2 separate regions of the Homo sapiens genome follow, and region 2 is linked to region 1. The links come from fine-mapping of genetic effects on gene expression. A gene starts in region 1. The other region holds a variant in brackets. All regions are shown on one strand. Distances are from middle to middle. Region 1 holds the start of CCR3 (C-C motif chemokine receptor 3). Region 2 has its middle 56 kb from the start of CCR1.

Region 1 (2,500 bases):
TCCCTTCCTGTGATTTATCTCTTTGTGCCCTTTACCCAATTTATTCTGCTGTACAGATCTGCTTTTTTCTTATTAAGTCATACAAAGGGCTCATATTTCTTCTCCCAGAAGAGCTAACTCATCCTGCGTGGTTCAGTGTAATCATCACCATTTTCTGGAAAGAGCTGCACTTCAAAAATATACTTCAACTTATACCACATCCATGTGGAAGACCCCTTATTCCCACCACTCTCACTTGAAGTACTTGTCAAAGTTAACACTCATCCTCTGTCAATCCAGGCGTTTCCAGAAGAATCGGTAAGGCTTTCTAGCTCTACCCTCTAACACAGACAATCTCATTCACCCAGAAAAAAAGACACCAAATCAATCAACTGACTCATCTAGTAGCTTGATTTAGTGTGGATTTTCAATGAAAACTTCAAATAAATATATATATTTCCACACATACATACTTAATGCACACACACATATGTATATAATCAGCCCTCTGTATCCATGGGTTCCACATTTGTGTATTCAACCAATCACGGATCAAAAATATCTGGGAAAAAGCTCCACAAAGTTGCAAAAACCAAGCCTTGAATTTGCCACGCAGCAAGTGCTATGTTGACTCCACATGAATGAAGCGCTCTGTATGCGTTGTATTAGGTATTACAAGTAATCTAGGTACTTGTATTTAAAGGGTACTGGAGGATATTTGTAGGTTATCAGCAAATACTACATCATTTTATATAAGGAACTTGAGCATCTATGAATTTTGGTATCTGCAAGGGTCCTGGAACAAATCCCTCACAGATACTGAGGGAGGACTTTGTATATATAAAAATGTATGTGTGTGTGCGTATATATATATATATATATATGTGTATATATATATATATACACATATATATGTAAAATTATATTTTTGCTATTTCTTACAAGTCAATATAAATAAACACAAGCTATTAAGTGTAAGCTCTTTGGAGTAGTCATATGCACATAGTTGAGAATTTGTGAAAGTATAGGAGGGTAACATGGGCACAGATGTTGACTAAAGAGGTATAAAGGGCCAAGTTTGGGTGAGTGCTACACGCAAACTTATCATTGTGTGGATGGGAGACAGAAAGGGAAAATTAGAAAAAGCAAGAAGAAAATGGAGATATGTGGCCATATTTTCTCCCACTCTGGCCCCATACTACCTCTAAATTGCTGTGTACCTTCCTCTCCTCCCTCCTAGATCCAAGAGCACTGCTGGAAGTTACTACTTCCACCTGCCTGGACCCCTCCTTGTTCCACCTCCCTTTTCCTGGAAAAGCGACACCTACCTGAAAATCTCTTCTAAGTAAAAACTTCTATTGTATTTCGATAAGTTCTTGCCCGGATAAGCACAAGAAGACCAGTGGTACCTGCTAATTTAGTGAAGTCCTTGATATGTCCAGTGATAGCTTAGGCGTCACCACTCCTGAAACAGAGATACCATCAGATCACAGACATTAGTAAAGTAGTAAACAATGTAAGTATATAACTTCCTGTTTTAAACAGACTAGCTTCTCAGTTTTGCAAGTTTTCAGAAAGATACTTTCGTGCAGTTCTTCTTTTTCATGATTGACACCACATACTAACCAGTCACCTGAGAAATCCTTGCAATTAGTGCTGCTTTAGGGGCTCTCCACCCATTGGCATTGCTCATTTTTAGTGGTGGGGGGTTGTTATAATTTTTTTTTTTTTTTTAAGACAGGATTTCATTCTGTCACCCAGGCTGGAGTACAGTGGCATGATCTCAGTTCACTGCAACCTCCACCTCCTGGGTTCAAGGGATTTTCCTGCCTCAGCCTCTGGAATAGTTGGTATTAGAGGCACATGCCACCATGCCTGGCTAATTTTTGTATTTTTAGTAGAGACAGGGTTTCACCATGTTGGCCAGGCTGGTCTCAAACTTCTGACCTCAAGTGATCTGCGAGTCTCGGCCTCCTAAAGACCTGGGATTTATAATTCTTGAATAAGCATTGATTTGACTCATCGGGAGACAGGATGAAGAATGAAATAAGAATTTCCCGGCAAAGGAATAAACTAATTATTCTGCAGGGTCCAGTAGACACTTGGATGGGGCAAAATGTGGCTGCAAAGGTTTAGACAAGTCTAAAAGACTTGAGTTTGAGTTTCAGTTGTGGCATACACAGCTACATAAGCTGGGGGTAGTAATTTAAACTTGCTGGACCTCAGCTTTTTCATCTCTAAACTGGAAATAATGATATTTAAGTCATAGCATTGCCGTGGAACCAACTAAGATAAATATGTGAAAAGTCTCTGCAGAATATACAGGGCTAAGGAAATGTAAAGTGTGGGTAGAATGCCACTGTGACATAAGCGTCATAGGGCAGAGCCATGTCTCAGGGCAAAGCGTCACAGGGCAGAGCCATGTGCCTGCTGTATGTGCTGATGTGTCCCTTGGGACCTAGCATGGCACTGGGCACAGAGCAGGTATTCACCCAATATTTGTGGGAAGAACTCTGACTAA
Region 2 (3,046 bases), 90 kb after region 1:
AATAATAATAAAAAAAATTAGCCGAGTGTGGTGGCGGGCGCCTTTAATCCCAGGTATTCAGGAGCCTGAGAATTGCTTGAACCCAGGAGGCGGAGGTTGCAGTGAGCAGAGATCGTGCCACTGCACTCCAGCCTGGATGACAGAGCGAGACTCTGTCTAAAAAAACAAAACAAAGAAAAGAAAAGAAAGTGCCCAGAAATGCCCACTGCTGGGCACTTGGAGGCCTCAGGGACCATAGAAACGTGCTACTTCTCTAATGTAGGAGACTCCTAGGGCAGCCCCTCCTCTGGGAAGAAGGAGTGTCCCTAATTCCAAGATGCTCATTGTCCAGGTAACCCAGAATGAGCATTATTGTATTATTTGGGAGTAGATTTAATTTGCTTGCTATTGTATTTATAGCATCCAGCCAGGCTTGGCACATAGTAGACACCTACAAATATTTCTTAAGTGATTGAATAAACAACTCACAAGCTCTGATGTGTCCATCCTTATTGAAGGACCTTGGTTCTGCCACCCTGTGCTTCTGTCTTTGATTCCTTTTCCTGCCCCAACATTGCCCCAGATCCAGCCTCTGCCTTGTTTATCCCCTGTTCCTCATGACCCACAGAATTCCAGCAGGAAGGACCAGACCCTGTCAGGAGGGAGGGGAGAGGTGGGAGGAGACAGGCCAACCTGGAGGGAGGGGCAGAGAGGGAGGAGGTGTGCAGAATAGAAGCCTGCTCCACGAGGCAGCCACAGAGGGGTGCTGGGGTCAGGGTTACCAATTACAAAATGAATCACTCAGCTAGTCTTCGATCTGGAAAATAGTCCAGAAACAGGCAAACACACAGCCTGCATGTTGGGGATTAATTAGAAAAAAAAAATACGGTGGTTCACGCCTGTAATCCCAGCACTTAGGGAGGCCAAGGTGGGCGGATCACGAGGTCAGGTGATTGAGACCATCCTGGCTAACGCGGTGAAACCTCGTCTCTACTAAAAATACAAAATATTAGCCGGGCGTGGTGGCGGGCGCCTGTAGTCCCAGCTACTCAGGAGGCTGAGGCAGGAGAATGGCAGGAACCCAGGAGGCGGAGCTTGCAGTGAGCTGAGATCGTGTCACTGCACTCCAGCCTGGGCAACAGAGCGAGAGGCCGTCTCAAAAAATAAAAATAAATAAATAAATAAATAAATAATTTTTAGAACAGTTTTAGAGTCACAGAAAAGGTGTAAAGATAGTATTGAGAGTTCCCATAAGACCACACCCAGTTTCCCCTATTATTAACCCCTCACATTGGTGATACATTTGTTACAATTAATAAACCAGCATTGATCATATTATTATTAATTAAAGCCATACTTTATTGAGATTTCTTTAGTTTTTTTTGTTTTTTTTTAATTATACTTTCAGTTTTAGGGTATATGTGCACAATGTGCAGGTTAGTTACATATGTACACATGTGCCATGCTGGTGTGCTGCACCCATTAACTCGTCATTTAGCATTAGGTATATCTCCTAATGCTATCCCTCCCCCCTCCCCCCACCCCCGCAACGGTCCCC[G/A]GAGTGTGATGTTCCCCTTCCTGTGTCCATGTGTTCTCATTGTTCAATTCCCACCTATGAGTAAGAACATGCAGTGTTTGTTTTTTTTTTCCTTGTGATAGTTTACTGAGAATGATGATTTCCAATTTCATCCATGTCCCTACAAAGGACATGAACTCATCATTTTTTATGGCTGCATAGTATTCCATGGTGTATATGTGCCACATTTTCTTAATCCAGTCTATCACTGCTGGACATTTGGGTTGGTTCCAAGTCTTTGCTATTGTGAATAGTGCTGCAATAAACATACGTGTGCATGTGTCTTTATAGCAGCATGATTTATAGTCCTTTGGGTATATACCCAGTAATGGGATGGCTGGGTCAAATGGTATTTCTAGTTCTAGATCCCTGAGGAATCGCCACACTGACTTCCACAATGGTTGAATTAGTTTACAGTCCCACCAACAGTGTAAAAGTGTTCCTATTCCTCCACATCCTCTCCAGCACCTGTTGTTTCCTGACTTTTTAATGATTGCCATTCTAACTGGTGTGAGATGGTATCTCATTGTGGTTTTGATTTGCATTTCTCTGATGGCCAGTGATGGTGAGCATTTTTTCATGTGTTTTTTGGCTGCATAAATGTCTTCTTTTGAGAAGTGTCTGTTCATGTCCTTTGCCCACTTTTTGATGGGGTTGTTTGTTTTTTTCTTGTAAATTTGTTTGAGTTCATTGTAGATTCTGGATATTAGCCCTTTGTCAGATGAGTAGGTTGCGAAAATTTTCTCCCATTTTGTAGGTTGCCTGTTCACTCTGATGGTAGTTTCTTTTGCTGTGCAGAAGCTCTTTAGTTTAATTCGATCCCATTTGTCAATTTTGGCTTTTGTTGCCATTGCTTTTGGTGTTTTAGACATGAAGTCCTTGCCCATGCCTATGTCCTGAATGGTAATGCCTAGGTTTTCTTCTAGGGTTTTTATGGTTTTAGGTCTAATGTTTAAGTCTTTAATCCATCTTGAATTAATTTTTGTATAAGGTGTAAGGAAGGGATCCAGTTTCAGCTTTCTACATATGGCTAGCCAGTTTTCCCAGCACCATTTATTAAATAGGGAATCCTTTCCCCATTGCTTGTTTTTCTCAGGTTTGTCAAAGATCAGATGGTTGTAGATATGCGGCGTTATTTCTGAGGGCTCTGTTCTGTTCCATTGATCTATATCTCTGTTTTGGTACCAGTACCATGCTGTTTTGGTTACTGCAGCCTTGTAGTATAGTTTGAAGTCAGGTAGCGTGATGCCTCCAGCTTTGTTCTTTTGGCTTAGGATTGACTTGGCGATGCGGGCTCTTTTTTGGTTCCATATGAACTTTAAAGTAGTTTTTTCCAATTCTGTGAAGAAAAGCATTGGTAGCTTGACGGGGAAGGCATTGAATCTATAAATTACCTTGGGCAGTATGGCCATTTTCACGATATTGATTCTTCCTACCCATGAGCATGGAATGTTCTTCCATTTGTTTGTATCCTCTCTTATTTCATTGAGC

The links. PIP is the estimated chance that this variant, and not a neighbour inherited with it, causes the effect.
Region 2: its variant is the best candidate, but not a certain one, in a credible set for the expression of CCR3 in thyroid (GTEx, PIP 0.53).

What each region holds. Positions count from the first base shown.
Region 1 is chr3:46,241,346-46,243,845 of GRCh38, reverse strand. It overlaps CCR3 (C-C motif chemokine receptor 3), which reads right to left and starts at 1,386. Exons shown (of 2, transcript NM_178329.3): 1 at 1,308-1,386.
Region 2 is chr3:46,151,107-46,154,152 of GRCh38, reverse strand. No RefSeq gene overlaps it. Among named protein-coding and RNA genes, the nearest start is that of CCR1, 56 kb to the left of the region's middle. The variant G/A (reference allele first, on the strand shown) is at 1,538.